Regions from separate parts of the Homo sapiens genome. Here all the other regions are linked to region 2. Evidence: fine-mapped expression QTL. A gene starts in region 2. Each other region holds a variant in brackets. All regions are shown on one strand. Distances are from middle to middle. Region 1 overlaps CCNL2 (cyclin L2). Region 2 holds the start of MXRA8 (matrix remodeling associated 8). Region 3 holds the start of MIR6726 (microRNA 6726).

The links.
Region 1: its variant is fine-mapped to the expression of MXRA8 in whole blood (TOPMed, PIP above 0.99).
Region 3: its variant is fine-mapped to the expression of MXRA8 in hippocampus (GTEx, PIP 0.95).

Annotation. Positions count from the first base shown.
Region 1 is chr1:1,391,794-1,397,900 of GRCh38, forward strand. CCNL2 (cyclin L2) reads right to left here. Exons shown (of 11, transcript NM_030937.6): 4 at 3,601-3,721; 5 at 1,603-1,667. Among named protein-coding and RNA genes, the nearest start is that of CCNL2, 4.5 kb to the right of the region's middle. RefSeq lists an enhancer at 1,169-1,669. The variant G/A (reference allele first, on the strand shown) is at 3,253.
Region 2 is chr1:1,356,018-1,362,124 of GRCh38, forward strand. It overlaps MXRA8 (matrix remodeling associated 8), which reads right to left and starts at 2,538. Exons shown (of 10, transcript NM_032348.4): 1 at 2,439-2,538; 2 at 664-687. The coding sequence starts at 2,487. RefSeq lists enhancers at 499-1,051, 1,639-2,221 and a silencer at 2,552-2,671.
Region 3 is chr1:1,294,019-1,300,125 of GRCh38, forward strand. ACAP3 (ArfGAP with coiled-coil, ankyrin repeat and PH domains 3) reads right to left here. Exons shown (of 24, transcript NM_030649.3): 8 at 5,955-6,050; 9 at 5,813-5,887; 10 at 5,327-5,338; 11 at 4,549-4,661; 12 at 4,352-4,403; 13 at 3,995-4,095; 14 at 3,804-3,915; 15 at 2,407-2,615; 16 at 2,193-2,262; 17 at 1,997-2,091; 18 at 1,718-1,920; 19 at 1,429-1,536; 20 at 700-798; 21 at 384-610; 1 more. It overlaps MIR6726 (microRNA 6726), which reads right to left and starts at 2,152; the gene lies at 2,092-2,152. RefSeq lists an enhancer at 3,165-4,101. The variant GC/G (reference allele first, on the strand shown) is at 2,776.

The sequences.
Region 1 (6,107 bases), 36 kb after region 2:
CTAAAACCAGACCTTACACTAGCTTTATGAATACTGCAAAAACAGAAAGGGTGATTCCATGAGGACAGTTGAACTGGTTTTATATTTACTGCTCCTCACATACCCCAATAACGGGGAGCCTTGGAGTGGGGCTGCACCCGCAGACGAGGTGGGTTGTGAGGGAATCTGACCCATGACCTTCCAGCAATATCTCTGTCCTAAATAAACCTTGGAGAAGGTAACATACAAACCCACTCAAGAGATTTCTAAATGGGAAGTCCTACAGGTGCCTCTTGGAGACACCCGGCTCTGGAAGCAGCTCCAGGCATCACGGGGGAATCTGTGTGGCGGCCGTGTGGCCCCAGCCCCTGATGCAAGCGTGCCAGTGCACAGCTCTAACACAGATACATTCAACAATCAGTAACCTTTCGGTGTCTAATCAACAACTGTCAGTATTCAAGTAGTGATATTAATCCACGAACTTAAAATTCTTAAAAACAAATGAAATCTTGAGAACATATAAACTTATTGCTGTATTTGAAGTGATACAATATTTTTCAAAGTATCCATGAAATAATTTAAAGATGCACACCTTTTACCAGAGCGTGTCATGCAAAGCTGCTCAAAAGAGCAACTTCAGGGCTTCTAGAAATCATGACATAACCCCACACTGACACAGCCAATTTGTCTCTTCAATTCTCACAGCTTTCCATAGCATTTTTTTTTAAGAGAAAGGTACTGCATCTTTATCATACAGGTACAGCAGTTTTAAAGGGACAAAATTCAAGTCAAGACAGTTACCAACTCTAATCAATACGATTACCAAAGCACGACAGAGGATTAACAAGAAGCACAATCGTCAGAGAACCACAGCAGGAGTCGGCCATGGCTATGCTATGTGCGTACCACCAGTCTAGAGCCAGCCTTCGGTGGAGAGCCTGCACTGGATTGGCTGAAGATGCCGCTGTCCCTGCACCAAAGCGCTTGGACAGCAGAGGAGAAGTCTTAGTCACTTACCCTCAGAGGCTACCCTTTGATTGAAAGAGTACAGAAAAGAAAAGTCAAAATAGGTTCTCTATTAAACATGTCATAGCACCAGACAATTCAGTCAGCAAAAATATGACCCTTACAGACTTAACTCCATGGGAAAAAATTCACCAGAATCCCCAGAATCCCCCAAATACTACATTGCACTTTAGGGTTCCTTTCTAGCACATGCATTGCTAAAATCGGCCCCAGAACCTTCTCTGCCCCTCTCCCATGGGATGCAATGTCAGTGGAGAAACAGACCAAGTCTGCACTAGCCTGTCCCTCCACCCTCCCCAGGAAAAGGTCCCCCTGCGCCAAGTCAACAGCTCCCAGAGGAAGCCCACTGACTGCTCTCTTCAGGGTGGGGGACACAGGAAGTCCAGGCTTGCAGGGAGGGGACGGGCCACCTACCGTGACTGCCAGTGCCCATTTTGGGAGTCTGATTGGAATTTATACAGCAGGAGCACTGGGCACTCGGACAACTCCAGCCCACAACCAAGTCACTGGGCTGCCTACCCACTGCCCAAGTGCCTCAAGTCAACACATTCCTGCACTGCCCTTGCTGGTCTCATAAAACAAGGAAGCTCAACTCACCATGAGGTCTGGACCAGGTGTTGGTTACGCTCACACTCTAACACCTGAAGGTACATAACGATTATCTGGAAGATACGGGTCAGGCAGTTATTACCAAGAACCTTAAGAGCCCAGAATTCAGATCTTGTGGGTGTCCATGCAGCAAACAAGAGCCTCAAGCTAGATCCCAGGAGTGGCTCCTGGCCACACGTCTGGCGGACGGCTCAGCTGGAGGGAGCTTTGCGATTGCACCTGCTGTCTGCCTTGGCAGCCAGGCAGGACGCATGCCCGTGAGCCCAGCCACACAACCCACGGCACAGGCCTCGTTCTTCATGGGGCTGGTTTCATTCTAGTCTTCAATGCCTTTCCACCAGTGAGGTTGGCCTGTCCTACACGTCTCTGTATCCCAGTTAACAACTCACCAAAACACAATATGAACATACTTTCAGCAAACAGAGAAGAACACTTCAGGCCAGGCACACTGGCTCATGCCTATAATCCCAGCACTTTGGGAGGCTGAGGCGGGCAGATCACCTGAGGTCAGGAGTTCGAGAACAGCCTGACCAATATGGAGAAACCCAGTCTCTACTAAAAATACAAAATTAGTCAGGCATGGTGGTGCACGCCTGTAATCCCAGGTACTCAGGAGGCTGAGGCAGGAGAATCGCTTGAAACCAGGAGGCGGAGGCTGCATGAGCTGAGGTTGCGCCATTGCACTCCAGCCTGGACAACAGAGCGAGATTCCGTCTCCAAAAAAAAAAAAAAAGCACTTCAATCTGTGGTGGGCAATTTGTGGATAATTTGAACAGATGGCAGAAAGCCGAACAAGCAGATGAGGAAACCCACCAATAAAAAGGAGATGGAACCAAAGATGGAAACAATTTTTTGGGAAAACAAGTGCTTTGTTTCCATGTGACACAGAAGGCACCCACAACGCTGGGAGTGAGGGACCGTGTCACGGCCATGGTCCTCAGTCAGTACATGCCGCAAAACTCGCCAGTCATTTCAGACTAAAGGGGCCAGAATTCCCCTAATTTCTCCATAAGAGAAAGTAAAGCTATCACTAAAGCAAATGTAGAAAATTAACTGTTGAGGCTGGGTGCAGTGGCTCACACTTGTAATCCCAGAACTTTGGGAGGCCGAGGCAGGTGCATCACCTGAGATCAGGAGTTTGAGACCAGCCCGGCCAACATGACGAAACCCCATCTCTACTAAAGATACAAAAATTACCCAGGTGTGGTGGCGCATGCCTGTAATCCCAGCTACTTGGGAGGCTGAGGCACAAGAATCACTTGAACCTGGGAGGCAGAGGTTGCAGTGAGCCAAGATTGCACCACTGCACTCCAGCCTGCATGACAGAGTAAGACTCCGTCTCAAGAAAAAAAAAAAAAAAAAAAAAAAAGGCCAGGCACAGTGGCTTATGCCTGTAATCCCAGCACTTTGGGAGGCCAAGGTGGGAGGATCACGAGGGCAAGAGATGAAGACCATTCTGGCCAACATGGTGAAACCCCGTCTCTACTAAAAATACAAAAATCAGCTCGGCGTGGTGGCACGTGCCTGTAGTGCCAGCTACTCAGGAGGCTGAGGCAGGAGAATGGCTTGAAGCCGGGAGGTGGAGGTTGTGCCTCCACTGCCACTGCCACCATGCCACTGCACTCCAGCCTGGCGATA[G/A]AGCGAAACTCCATCTCAAAAAAAAAGAAAACAAAAAAAAATTAACTGTAGAGAAAGGAAAACATAAACTAAAATTCAACATTTATAAACTCACCACTATTTTTGAAAGCCCAAACTTAAATAATACCATTTCCAAAACACTTAAAAATGTGTTACTAAAATAAACAGCTGACACTAGAAGACGAATACGTCAGGAACTATTCTTGAGATTATAAATAGAAACTGGAAAGCCAAGTCAGGGATGCACTCAGTCCTCTTCAGAGCCTTCAACTGCACTGAGGTGGAGAGAGGCGGCCAGGCAGGAGCAGCGGCCTAGGCGGGCTCGCAGGGCAGGAGCCGCACACCCACCTTATGAGGATGCTTCACATGGACGCAGAAACCCAACTCTTTGAGAACTCGTCTTTCCGCCTTTATAATTTGGTTCTTTAAATTAACATAATCTTGATCCAGTAGTAGAGGCACGGGCTTCCTGCCAGAGAGAGAGCACAGGGTCTGCACCACAGTCAAGCAGAGCAAGGCTTCTGAGATCCCGTCGTTACCTCCAACTATGAGCACCTAACACAAACCCCACAACACAACATCGCTATGAAGTCCACATCCTCTGATGAACAAAACTGCACACCGCTCCCCACAGCCCAGTGCCAACCTCCTCATCCCTTCCCAACGATCCCTCCCTGCTTTTCCTTATAGATCAACAGCTTCTGGTGCACAAGCATAGACCGAACATAGCAAGTTTTAGGATCTCGTGGCACAAATGCTAAAGCACTTTATGTGACTCACGATAGGAAGGTACATATTCACAGTTCAATAACCACAGAACCAATGAAAGCACAATTATTTAAATACAGATGGGCCAGGTGCAGTGGCTCTGCCTGTAATCCCAGCACTTTGGGAGGCGAGGCAGGCAGACTGCCTGAGCTCAGGAGTTCAAGACCAGTCTGACCAACATGGTGAAACCCTGTCTCTACTAAAAAAATGCAAAAATTAGCCGGGCGTGGTGGCGGGTGCTTGTAATCCCAGCTACTCAGGAGGCTGAGGCAGGAGATTCACTTGAACCCAGGAGGCGGAGGTTTCAGTGAGCCGAGATCGCATCACTGCACTCCAGCCTGGGTGACACGGTGAGACACAGTGAGAGTCCGTCTCAGAAAAAAAAAAAAAAAAAAAGGGCTGGGTGCAGTGGCTCACACCTGTAACCCCAGCACTTTGGGAGGCCGATGAGGCCATGTTTTTTCTTTTTTTGAGATGGAGTCTCACTCTGTTGCCCAGGCTGGAGTGCAGTGGCGCGCTCTTGGCTCACTATAACCTCCACCTCCCAGGTTCAAGCAATTCTCCTGCCTCAGCCTCCCAAGTAGCTGGTATTACAGGCATGCACCACCACGACCAGCTAATTTTATATTTGTAGTAGAGATGGGGTTTCTACATGTTGGTCAGGCTGGTCTCGAACTCCCGACCTCAGATGATCCACCCGCCTTGGCCTCCCAAAGTGCTGGGACTATAGGCGTGAGCCACTGCGCTCGGCAAGGCTGTTTTTTTTTTTTTTTTTTTTTTTTTTGAGACAGAGTTTCACTTTTGTTGCCCAGGCTGGAGTGCAATGGCACAATCTCAGCTCACTGCACCTCTAACTCCCCGGTTCCAGCGATTCTCCTGCCTCACCCTCCCGAATAGCTGGGATTACAGGCACCCGCAACCACACCCGGCTAATTTTTTTTTTATTTTTTTTTGAGACGGAGTCTTGCTCTGTCGCCCAGGCTGGAGTGCAGTGGCCCGATCTCAGCTCACTGCAAGCTCCACCTCCCGGGTTCACGCCATTCTCCTGCCTCAGCCTCCCAAGTAGCTGGGACCACAGGCACCCGCCACCACGCCTGGCTAACTTTTTTGTATTTTTAGTAGACGGGGTTTCACCGTGTTAGCCAGGATGGTCTCGATCTCCTGACCTCGTGATCCACCCGCCTCGGCCTCCCAAAGTGCTGGGATTACAGGCGTGAGCCACTGCACCTGGCCAATTTTTGTGTTCTTAATAGGGACAGGGTTTCACCATATTGGTTAGGCTGGTCTCGAACTCCTGACCTTAGGTGATCCACCTGCCTAGGCCTCCCAACGTGCTGGGATTACAGGCCAGCCCGGCCAGAGGCTGTGTTTTCTAAAGGACTTCAATTAACTTCAGGTGCATAAACCCTGGGCTAAGGTCAGAGGCAGCGGTTCTCTGCTGGAGAAATTTTACTATTCCAGGGCCATGAAGCAACATCAACAGACTTTCGTTTTTTTTGGAAACAGGGCCTCACCCTGTTGTCCAGGCTGGAGTGCAGTGGTGACATCACAGCTCACTGCAGCCTCAATCTCCTGGCCTCAAGCAAACCTCCTTTTTCAGTCTCCCAAGTGCTGAGATGACAGGTGTGAGCTCCCACATCTGGTATGAGAGAATTTCTGGCTGTCACATCTAAGGTGGGGTACTCCTGTCATCCAGTGAGTCGAGACCAGGGATGTTGCTGAATCCTGCAGCACACAGGAGAATCCCCTACAACTAAAGATTACCCAGCCAGATGCGGTGGCTGAAATCTGTAATCCCAGTGCTTTGGGAGGCTAAGGCCAGCAAATCCTTGGAGCCCAGGAATTTGAGACCAGCCTGGGCAACACAGCATGACCCCATCTTTACCAAATAAAAAATAAAAATTAGCTGGCATGGTTGGCGTGCTCCTATAGTCCCAGCTACTCAGGAGGCTGAGGCAGGAGAAACTCTTGAGCCTAGGAGGTTGAGGCTGTAGTGAGCCATGATCATACCACCGCACTCTGCCCTGGACAACAGGAAACCTGTCTCAGGAGGAAAAAAAAGATTATCCAGCCTGAATGTCAATAGT
Region 2 (6,107 bases):
TCTGAGGACCCTGGTGGAGGAGGAGGAGTAACTGGGGGAGGGGTGTGCCCCAAGGACTCTGGCGGGGTTGGGGGCATCTTTGGGGGGGTGTGGGCCCCTGAGGCCCCTCGTGGTGGGGGAGATTCCATGGGGGAGGGGCATGCCCCCTAGGGCCCATGTGGGGGAAGGGGAATCATTGGGGGAGTGGTGGACCCCCGAGGGCCCTGGCAGGGGAGGGGGAGTCCATGGGGGAGGGCAAGTCAGTCGGGGAGACATGGGGCCCAAGGACCCTAGTGGGGGATGGGGAGTCCATGGGGGAGTGGTGGGCCCCGAGGGCCCTGGTGGGGAAGGGGACTCAGTAGGGGAGGGGCAGACCCCGAAGGCCCTGGTTGGGGAAGGGGAGTCAGTGGGGGCATCTGTGGGGGAGGGGTGGGCCCCCGAGGGCCCTGGTGGGTGTGCGGGAGTCTGTGGGGGAGGGCCAGGCCCCCAAGGGCCCTGGTAGGGGAAGAGGAGTCATTGGGGGAGGGGGAGTTATTGGCAAGGGGAGGTGCCCAAGGGTCCTGATGAGCAAGGGGGAATCAGTGGGGGAGGGGCAGGGCCTGAGGACCCCCGGGGGCTGGGCCTGGCAAGATAGGAGGGGCTGAGGGGGAGTGGGGGTGGGCAGCTGGGGCTGGGGTCACTAACCTGAGTGCAGGAGAACAGCAGAGCCTGGAAGGAGAGGAGTGAGCTGGAGAGGCCACCCACAGCCCCACCCAGCCCCGAGACCCCCCACTTGGCCCCCAGAGTCCCTCCTGTAGTCCCAAAGTGGATGCTGTGACACCCACTTCAGTGCAGGGAGGACGCCTCTCACACAGACCTACATAGCCCTCCCTGCCACCGTGCTGGGCTTTGGATGGCACCTGCCCTTGAGTGGGGAAGCCAGGGCATGGGCGTGGGCCAGGGCCAGGCTCCAAGCCAGCCGGTTCTGGGGTGTGTGCTTGTCACCGGGGCCACTCCACCTGGCTGCACCCAAGTCACCCAGAGCACCAAGGAGGCTGGATCTGTGGGTTCCCCCACGCTCCCTCCAGGGCTGTGCCCCAGCCCCCGAGGGTCCTTGGACCCTCAGACGCTGGGGACCCCACACCACACCTAAGGCTCAGCGCAGCCCCTGAGGTGCTTCCGCAGGGCAGAGGCCTGAAGGCTGAATGTGGGTCGTGACCCCGGCTGCCGCCCCACAGGCCCGCGTTGCTGCTTGAGGGACTCTCATTGTCGTAGGCCGCCTCGGCATCCACTCTGAATCTAGGCTGGACTTTCTCTGACCGGAAGCGGGGCTGCCACCCGGGACAGTTTCCAATTCACATCCCCCGTCCTCGAGCTGATCCACCCAGACGCCCGCCCTACGCACTGTCCCCTGGTGACCACCCCCTGTGTCCCCACAGACCCCACGCCCCACATGGACTGTGCAGCTGCACCACGGAGTCCCCCCACAGTCAGCGTGGCCCCACGGGGCTCGTGCCGCTTGCCTTAAACCCACCAGTTAAAACTCCCCCACCAGGCATGGTGGCTCACGCCTGTAATCCCAGCACTTTGGGAGGCCAAGGCAGGTGGATCACCTGAGGTCAGGAATTCAAGACCAGCCTGGCCAATATGAAAAACCCCATCTGTACTAAAAATACAAAAAATTAGCCGGACGGGGTGGTAGTGGGCGCCTATAGTCCCAGCTACTTGGGAGGCCGAGGCAAGAAAATGACTTGAACCCGGGAGGTGGAGGTTGCAGTGAGCCGAGATCACGCCACTGCACTGCAGCCTCCTTGGCGAGAGAGAAACTGCCTCCAAAAAAATTCCCTGAGGGAAACCTGTATGCAGAACGCCCTGATCCCAATAAAGGGTTGGCCTGGGGGTCCCTGTCTCTCTCCACTTTCCCTGGCCTCCCAGCAGTCTGTGCACCCCAGGGCCCGTGGGTGATAAAAGCTGTTTCTATCCTGTGTCTCTAGATCACTGGGGGCTGCTCTCCCTCACATAGATCCTATGTGAAAACTGCCCCAGAGATGTGGCCGAGAGCCTGGGAGCTTCCCAGAGGAATGTGCCCGGTCAGCAGCCAGCCCAGGCCTGGGAGCGGGGGCTGGAACAGACCCCACAGTTCTCAGGTCCCCTTCAATCACTGACCCACTCCCTAAACAGAGCCCCAGCAAGAGGGGCTGCAGGAGGGGCCCCGAGGGAGACGCCGCCGTGCCTGGGCCCCCAGCCCTTCTTGGCCCTCTGGGCTTCAACTCCCTAGGAGGGGAGGCTGGCCAAAGTCTAACTGAAGACGTCACAGCCTCTGGCAAGCGGCTCTCCCGAGCGCCCCCAGACCCGTCCTCTTCCCTGGTGGGACCTTCCCACTCCTCCTGGCCCAAGCTCAGATGGGCGGTTTTGTCCGAAACGGACTCGCACAGCCCCACGTGCCACCCCCCACCCGCCTCCCAGGGCCCCACACTCACTCTGCAGAAGCACAAGTTTCCAAAGCAGGATTCGGGATGGCAGCGCCATGGCCCCCGCCCAGCCCCAGGCTTTGTCCCACTCGGCTCTAAGTCTCTCTCCAGAAAAACAGCCCTACCCCCTCCCCCTCCTTAGCACCCGCGGTGACATCACGGAGGCCTGGGCCTGTCTACGGTCTGGGGACCGCCCCCTCTGGCTCCTGCCGGGCCCCTTGGCCTCCCCCATCGTTGCTGGCCTGCTGGGGAGGGGCAGTGTGGGAGCAGAGGCCCAGCCCCTCACCGGTCAGGCCTGGGGAGGGGTGGTGACCGCACCCTTGGAGGGACAAGAAGGTCCGAGGACATGGGCCCCTGATACCACGTGATCGTGTCTCACGTCTAGGAGCCTCCCGGGCCTGTGGTGAAGGGTTGGGACTGTTGGGTGAGTGGCCCCTCCGCCCCACCTCTGGCCTCCCCCCACGTGAGCCACCTCAGGGCAGGGTCCTCCCCTCAGTCTGCTCCAGGCCCCAGAAAGGCCTCCCAGCGCTGAGACCGCCCCCACCCACGGTGCACGCTGGTGCTCTCCTTCAGACCAGATGGCCCTTCCAGCTCCAACCCTTGGCCCTGCATGACCTTGGTACCCGTCTCCTCTGGGGGCCACGGTGGGCTCCCTTGGGCCAGGATGATGGACGCTGCCAGTCACTAGTCCCCTTTACAACCTGGAGAGTCAGCCAGGGACAGGGGACCCTGAGCACTGGGAGGCCTGGGGGTGCTGGGGTGAGCAGACCTCTCCCTGCTGGCCCCGTCCCCTGGGGCTGCCCGCCTTTAGGGTGCAGCCTGGTGTCCCTGAAACCAGGTGCTGGATTACAAGCCTCCTGGAGAAAGGGGAGAGTGGGACCCCTGCCATGGAAGGCACAAATTTGAAACTGTGGGAAAACTTACAAAGTCACATAAACAAATGCGAAATAACAGCCTGCACTGTGTAGCAAACCCAACTCCTTCTAATCAAGCAAACCTCAAGAAAAAACAATCTGAACAACCACAACCACTAGAAACCCTCAGTGCATAGTTCCGCCCGCCCACTTGGAGTGAGCTCTCCTTACAGGCCCCGAGGGCCCCAGCTGGGTGGGGGGCTCACCCCTGAACCCTGCTCTGGTGCCCAAGTCCTCAGACAGTGGGAAGCCCAGTGCAGATCAGAGTGGTGGTCTCAGGGCGAGGGGAGGGGAACCTGCGGCTGCTCCAGTGAGAGGAACGGGCAGGACACGGACCGGCGTAAGGACAGAAGACCCCACCCCACCCCAGCCCGGTCAGACCCATTTCCTCAGCAGGGTCCTGGCCCGGGCGGCGACCTTTCCAAACTGGCTTCAGGGCTGAACACATCCCGCCACCCCCACTCCCTCCCTGGGCCTTTCATTCTGGAAAAACAAGCCCCACCTGGCTGGCCTCGAGGCCTCTGCTGGCCTCTCCTCCTGTTTTTCCAACTGGTTTGTATTAGTGCTGGCAGCTGCCCGCCCGCCCATGTCTGTCTCCGTCGCACACTCTGGGGCCTTGGCCTCTGCAGTCTCTGTCTCCTTCCGTCACTCTCCCTGTTCCCTCTCTCCCCATGGAGGGAGGACGGACAGCAGTTTGGTGGGGGGACAGGGTTGGCCCTCGGGTCTGGGAGGGCCCGGCTCTGGGTGCAGGGCTGAGAGGGGCGCCTGGTCCGCACGACAGCCTCAGGCCAGGGCTCGCCTCACTCTGCAGGGCCGTCCCTCTCCGGGCAGTGGCCTCCAGCCACACTTTCGGGGACCCAGCCAGCGGAGATGCAGGCCAGAGGCTGTCGTCTGAGAGGGCCCTGACCTCTGAGAGGGCCACCTGGGGGCAGCTGACCCCCATGGGGCCCTGGGCAAGGAACAAAAGGCTGATGAGGCCATCAGGCCCCTTCCCTGACCCTCCCTGTCCGGCCCTCAGTGGGAAACAGCCACAGAGAAGAGCAGGCCTGGTAGTGACCAGGTCACCTGCTCCTCCCAGGGCCAGTGACCTGTGCCTCTTCTGCACCTTCCTGGGCTGGGACTGTGGAGCCTCTGCTCGCTGGGGGGTGGTCTGCAGAGCTGTGGGTGTGTGACTTAATTCCCAGCCTGGCCTGGCATTTTTCTCCCTCTGGGAAGAGGACAAACCAGGACAAAGCCACTGGCATCACTGTGCTCTGGCTAAGCCCCCAGCCAAACCAGCGCCCTGGACCGTCCTCCTAGCCCCACCTCTGGGGGTTGGGGTGGAGCAAGAGGGGTCAGCTGGCCCCACGGCCCGCACTGAGGATCTGATCTTGGCTGCCATTCCTGGTGACTCGGACATTCCAGGCAGCCCGTCTCATTGGGAAGAAAAACCACAGGCACTCAGAGCCACAAGCAGCACAGCCAAGCCCATATTCACTCCCATGAGTGTGCACAGACACATGCACACACACACAAAGACACACATGGAGACACACAGAGATACACACGCATGCACACGAAGACACATGGAGACACAGACACGCATGCACATGAAGACACGGAGACACACAGAGATACACGGAAACACAGACACATGCACACACGCGAAGACACAGACACATACACATGCATGCACATGAAGACACGGAGACACAGATACATGGAAACACGAACACAGACATGCGCACACACGACACACATGGAGACACGCATGCATGCACATGAAGACACACGGACACACAGAGAAGATACACGGAAACACAAACACACAGACACAGGTCCACACACAGAAACAGAGACACACACAGACACACATGGAAAGACACACACAGAGACACGGACCTGTGGCCGCACAGCGGATCATCGATGGCTGAAGAGTCCCACTTCCTGTCGTTCAGAAGCGTTTGCTGACCACCTCCTGGGTGCCAGGCTTGCTGGGCACTGGGGACTCAGCACTAAGCCGGGTGCCAGCCATGGCCCTCTTGGACCCCAGCCTCCTGGACTGTGCTGCATGTGGTGGAGGGAATGAGACAGGGGTCGGGGGGCGCCCAGGCTGGAGGGGCGAGGACGGACGGACCCAAGGAAGCAACCTCTGTGACAGCAAATGCCAGGCGAGGCCTGAGGACGCGGCTTCCAGGCGCAGCCAGTGGCGGGGCTGCCAGGAGTGGTCTTGGGACGCCAGGGACCCTGTGTGTGTGGTAGGGGGGCCACTGCTGACACCAACACAGACAGGGTTAGGCTCGAGGACAAACCGTATTCGCCGCCGCCGCACCTGCCACGCACATCGGAAGCGTTAGCACAGTTTTCCCTGCGTGGGGCTGGGTCTCCTACCCAGGCTGAGTTTCTCCCCTCTAAGAGGAAACACCGCCAGCCTTCTTTCTCCTACGGCCTTTGGATTCTGAAAACTCGCTGTGGGGAGGGACGTGAGGCTTCGGCACCAGGAACCCCTGCGGGCTAAGACGGTGTTGGCCAATCACATCCAGTCACTCTCCTGGGAAAGTCACTTTTATGGAGACAGCCCCCCAAGGGGGTCTCAAGATATATTGAAGTTTTGGTTAGTTATGTATGCTGACTAAATTTACAAGTAAACTTGTTTATCAAAAACAAAAGAAAATGTGTTAATCCGTTATAGCCGCTTGTGGCGACTGTTCCCGGCCATGTCCCTGGCTGACTGTTTTCCTGCTGATCCTGACCAGCGTCCCCGGCAGCCATGGCCTGCATTCGT
Region 3 (6,107 bases), 62 kb before region 2:
CGGACAGGGCGTAGCCGGGCCGGGGTAGGCGTGGTCGGGGCACAGGGCGGGGCGTGGGTTGCGCGTCTCACCCGGTGCGGCCCAGCAGCGTGGCGTGGTGCAGGGGCGCCCGGCCCCGGCTGTCTCTTTGGTTCACGTCCGCTCCGTTTTGCAGCAGGAACTCACAGACGATCAAGGAGCCCTGGGGAGCCGGGGCAACTCAGACGGAGCCACGGCACCGGCCCCTCTCCGCGCCTCTGCACCCTGACCCCGGCCTTGGGCGCCCCCAGCCGGGACCGAACGTGGTCCCCACCGCGGACAGGCGACCCTTGTGTGGGCGCCACAGAAGATGCAAACGCGACTGTGCACCTGTGTCCTGCGCGCAGCCCCCGTGGCTCGCTCACCCCTAGCACGGCCTGCACCAGCGGCGTCTTGCCCTCATCCTCCGCGTCCGCCCAGTTGACCTCGGCCCCGTGGGCCAGCGCCGCCGCCAGCGCAGGAAGGTCGCGGGCACGCGCTGCGCGGTGCGCCAAGAGCCCCGGGTGCAGCTCGCGCACGTCCGCCAGGCCCCAGGCCTCGGCCTCAGTGTCCCCGTCTGCCTCACCGCTGGACTCCTCCGACTCTGCACCCTCTGTGGGGAGGGGGCGGTCAGGGAAAGCAACCCCCGGGGCTGCCCAGGGGCTGGGCAGGGGCCTCGGGCGAGGGCAAGACGCCACCCACCCTCCTCAGTGACGCTGTCCACCACAGAGCCCGAGCCGAAAGCCAGGACGTCCGAGCTGCCATCCGAGCTGCCCCCAAGGCCACTGTCGCTACTCAGACCTGCAGGTCCGCAGGGAAGGGGGTCCTGAGGGTGGGAGGCCCAGACTCCGTCCAGAGCCCTGGGGCAAGGCTGGAACTCCACCCACCCTCCAGGGGCCACCCCTAGGGACAGGACCAGCTCCCACCCAGGGCCGGGGGGAGCCAGCTGCAGGCTAGGAGCAAAGGAGAGAAAACCAAATAACAGCTCAAAGGTGCCAGGGGTAGCCCCCTAAAGCCCAGGCCTTTTGGGAAGCCCTTCCCTCCCGCTCGCCGCCTTACCCGGCACCCCCCGCAGTGGGCCCCCCAGCCCCGTCTGTGGCTGGCCCAGGCTGAAATGTCTCCACCCAACCAACGGGCAGCATGGCTCCAGAAGGGCCCTAGGCTGAGGGCCGGCTGGCAGCGCCCTCTGCTTCCCCAGCACCCCGGGCCACCCGCTGTGTGCACACACCCAGGTGCACACAGCCCACACACACATTTGCACAGCTCACCCCTGACAGTCAGGGCCTTGGCCTCCAGCTGTGTGGCCAGGAGGCCCCCCGCCCCTTCAGATGCTGCTCCATTCCCTGGCAAGGGCCATCCACACTCAGGCACCCTTCAGGCCAGCCTCCTTGGCCCTGCCCTGCCACCTGGCTGGGCCCACCCCACACTTACTGCGAGGGCCAGCCCCTGCGGCCCCTGCGTCGAAGTAGGAGAAGAGCGAGTCCAGCTCGTCGGGACAGAAGAGGGAGTCTCGGCGGAACTTACGATCCAGGGTGCCCACTGCAGGGGCAGTGCGTGTTCAGAGTGTGGAACAGGCCCGGGGTGGGGCAGGGAACCCCAGGTCACGCCGGGAGTCTGCGGAGCCTGAGGTGCCCCCAGAGCCCTGCCACCAGCCCCTTGACGGAGTCCATCCCCGACCAAGGCAAGCCCCTCCCAGCCCTGCCGGGGCATGGCCTCCCACCTGAGGACAGAGCGGCCACACAGGGCAGAACGGGCTCAAGCCGGACCTTGCGGCGGGCAGTGGGAGCGCGGGGAGAGCTGTGGGGCCGCAGGCACTTCTGCACCCTCCAGCGTCTTGGGGCCTCCAGGGCTGGTGCCATGGGCGCCTTCCGCAGAAACTTCTTTTCCACGTATTTGTCCTTGATCCAGGCCTCCTTGTCCTGCCTGGACCAGGGGGGAACATGAGGCTGTGCCCCCAGGCTGGGGCTCCCTGACTGATCCAGACTGTACCCCACCTCACCGGGAGCTGCTGGCTGTGGGTTTCCTGCTGCCTGCACCCTCACACTGGGCCTCATAGATCTGATTCACAGCGCTGTTTCCAAGCTCACACATCAGCTAGCGGGAGACAGGGCGAGCAGGCATCAGTGCGAACCTGCAGACCCCAGCTCCCGCCCCCACAAACGGGGTCCCGTGGCCTCCAGGAGCCCCACACGCACCTTTAGCAGCTCAGGCTCCCACGAGTCCAGCGTCAGGGACCGCACCTTGGAGCAGTGGACACCCAGGCTCCTGGAGAGCAGAGGTAGGGATGAGTCTGGGGGAGGCAAGGCCCCCAGCTCCGGCCCAACCCCCACCCCCGGCCTGGCCCTCAGGGGCCCACCTGTGGATGCTCCAGCCCAACCCCCACCCCCAGCCTGGCCCTCAGGGGCCCACCTGTGGATGCCGGAGCACTCAATGCAGAGCAGCACGCCCAGGTTGATGCTGGCCCAGCGGGGGTCCGGCTGGCCGCAGTCGCCGCACTGGCTGTTGCCGGCCACACTCTGCACACGCTGCAGCACACTCTCGCCCTTCACGCCACGCTCCCGAGTGTCGGTGGCGGAGTCGATGCTGCTCGTGGACGGGGATGCTGTGCGGTCCAGCCTCTGGAGGATGGGGTGGAGCTGCTCGGTCCCGCAGGGGCTCCAGCATGGTTTCCCCAGCAGGCCCCCTCCTCCCCAGCCAGAAGAGCCAATGCAGGCCAGGGCCCCTCGAGCACACGCCCGCACACGCACGTACACGCGCACACCCTCACGTGGGCAGATG[GC/G]CCCCCCCTCGAGCACACGCCCGCACACGCACACACGCGCACACCCTCACGTGGACAGGTGGCGCCGAGCACACGCCCGCACACGCACGTACGTGTGCACACCCTCACGTGGGCAGATGGTGCCGAGCACACTCCCACACGCGCGTGTATACGTGCACACCCTCACATGGGCAGATGGTACCTGCACACACATGCACATCCACACTGCACAAGCCAGCATGCCAGTGCACACCAGCACACACCCAGCTTGCAGGAGCCACACACAGGCGTGTGCACGTGTGTGGGGCAGGGGCCATCCCCAGTGGCACGTAGGTGTGTGCACCGGCACGGGGCAGGGGCCATCCCCAGTGGCACGTGTGTGTGTGCACAGGCGCGGGGCAGGGGCCATCCCCAGTGGCACGTGTGTGTGTGCACAGGCGCGGGGCAGGGGCCATCCCCGGTGGCACATGTGTGCACGGGCTTGGGGCAGGGGCCATCCCCGGTGGCACGTGTGTGTGTGCACAGGCGCGGGGCAGGGGCCATCCCCGGTGGCACGTGTGTGTGTGCACGGGCTTGGGGCAGGGGCCATCCCCGGTGGCACGTGTGTGTGTGCACAGGCACGGGGCAGGGGCCATCCCCAGTGGCACGTGTGTGTGTGCACAGGCGCGGGGCAGGGGCCATCCCCGGTGGCACATGTGTGCACGGGCTTGGGGCAGGGGCCATCCCCGGTGGCACGTGTGTGTGTGCACAGGCGCGGGGCAGGGGCCATCCCCGGTGGCACGTGTGTGTGTGCACGGGCTTGGGGCAGGGGCCATCCCCGGTGGCACGTGTGTGTGTGCACAGGCACGGGGCAGGGGCCATCCCCAGTGGCACGTGTGTGTGTGCACAGGCGCGGGGCAGGGGCCATCCCCGGTGGCACGTGTGCACGGGCACGGGGCAGGGGCCATCCCCGGTGGCACGTGTGTGTGTGCACAGGCGCGGGGCAGGGGCCATCCCCGGTGGCACGTGTGTGTGCACGGGCTTGGGGCAGGGGCACCAAGGGCCACACCTCGCTATAGCAACTGTCAGGGCTCTCGCGGTAGGCGGAGGCGATGCTGGCCTGCACAGCCTGGACCCAGGCTTGCCGCAGCTTCTCGGAGTCAGCCTGCAGCATGCAGCTCCTGCAGGCAGTGGAGGGGCGGGCGTCAGCTCCGGTGGGCAGGTACGCCCCCCGCCCCACCCTGGGCTGGGCCTCCTCACTTGGTGGGTGACAGCACCTCGAAGCAGAACCTCCGCTCGATGTCCTCACACGGCTTCACAGAGCACAGGCGGAGGTCATCCACCACCACGGTGAGGGCATCCTGTGGGCGGCACCGCTGTGGCCCCTGCCCTCAGCCACCACCCGGCCCCGACCACCCACTTCCTGCTTCACCTTGGAGACCCGGAGGCCGACTGCCTGAGCCCCAAGCCCCGTGTCCAGCTCTCTGCTCCCTGACTGTTCCGGCTCCGGCGTCCACTAGTGCCCCGGCCCTGTGCTAACCCCAACTGACCAGTCTGCCCTGTGGCCCAGGTGGGGCGTCCAGCCATCAGGGCCCCAGCCCCAGGCCCAGGGCACACCTTGAGCTTCTTCTGGTAGACCAGCTGGCTGTTCTGAATGGAGAACCAGCGCCTAGGTGGGTGGGGGGATGTGGGGAGTCAGGCGGGGCCCATCCCAGGGCTGCTGTGACCCCTGCCCCCACCTGAGGACCCCACCCCCGCCTGAGGACCCCACCCCCGCCTAAGGACCCCGCCCCCACCTGAGGAAGGCCTCTCACCGGTTCCATGTCTTGAAAGCGTTGCTGGCCCTCTTGAAGAGGTAGCCCTCCATCACCACCCCACTGGGCGCGTCCACGTCAAACTCCACTTTGGACTCATCGTAGGAGAAGTCCTGGGGGGATGGAACCCGCCCCCTCAGTGCCCACCCCAGGGGCCCTGCTACCCTCCGTGCTTTCCCGGAGCACAGGTGGGGGTGAGGTCCTTGTCTGAGGCTGCCACACGGCCCACGGACCACACGCTCAGACGAGAGACCCTCTGTTCACCACAGCCACTTCTTGACCTGAGCAAGGCCCCCAGCCCTGCAACCCGTGGGGCAGACCCCTCACGTTCACAGCTGGGGGCCCGAGAGTGCCGGCCCCACCCCAGCCCTGCAGGGACCAGCAGGCTGCGATCAGGAAGGAAGCTGCGCCCCCACCCTCCGCATCCTGAGTGCCCCATTCATGTGGCCAGCTGGGCGGACAGAGCCCCATTCAGGAGGCCTGGGAGTCACTGAGGGCCCTGTGTGTCCCGCCATCTGGCAGGCCAGGGAAGCAGAGGGGAGGGGCGGCCACCTGCTCCCCAGGCCACATGGGATGGGAAGGGACAGCTGCCGCCAACCCCACGGGGAATGTGGAGGTCTGGCCGGAGCCAGCCCCTCACAGCCGCATCAGCAGCAGGAGCCGAGACTGGTGGGAGGTGTCCTTGGTGCTGAAGTGCCCTTGGGGTAGAGGAGGGAAAGGCACCGCCCCATCTGGTCTCCCCCGACCCACAGCCCGCCCAGGGCCCGTGCTCACTTACCTGCAGCAGCGTCTGGAGGGCCGGAGCAGGAGGGGGTAGGGGGAGAAAGCCAGTGAGTGACGGCTGCCAACTCCTGGTGACTGGTGGACCCGTCCCCAACTCCTGGTGACTGGTGGACCCGTCCCCAACTCCTGGGGGGCTCTCCCCTATCCCAAAATAGCCACTCCTGCCTGCAGCCAACCTCTGCCCGGGATGGTGGCCGGGGCTGCTGTCCCACAGGCAAGCAAAGGCCCCGCAAGGAGCCAGTGACTGAGGCCACAGAGGTGACCACCGCCTCAAAAGGAGATCCCAGCAGCGGCCCCACCCACACGTGCCCCTCCACTGCACACATCAAAGGGAGCAGCCTTGGTCCCCTAGAGAGGGTGTGGGCAGGGCAGGTGGGAGACAGGCAGGAGGAAGGGGCGGGGAGGGTGTGCCGGGCATGGGGTGAGGACGCAGGGGCCTCCCAGGCGCCTGGTGTGCAGGGAGCCGGCTGCGCGGCCTCACCCGCTGCTGGATGGCGGCGTGCTTTCGCTCCATCTCACGCTTTTCCACCGCAGAGTCGATCACCAGCTGGTCCAGCTGTTGGGGGTGGCATTAGGGAAGGTCACGGAGGCCTGGCCCAGCCCCACCCCTCCCAAAGGCTCACCTCGGCTGCCAGCTTCTTCATGTAGGGGTCCAGCTGGTGCAGGAGGCTGTAGCCCTGCTGGAAGAAGCTGGACTGGGCGTGCATGAAGGACAGCATCTGCGGGGGCAGCACAGGTGAGGCCCAAGCACACCCGGTCCAGCCCCCAACATGCAG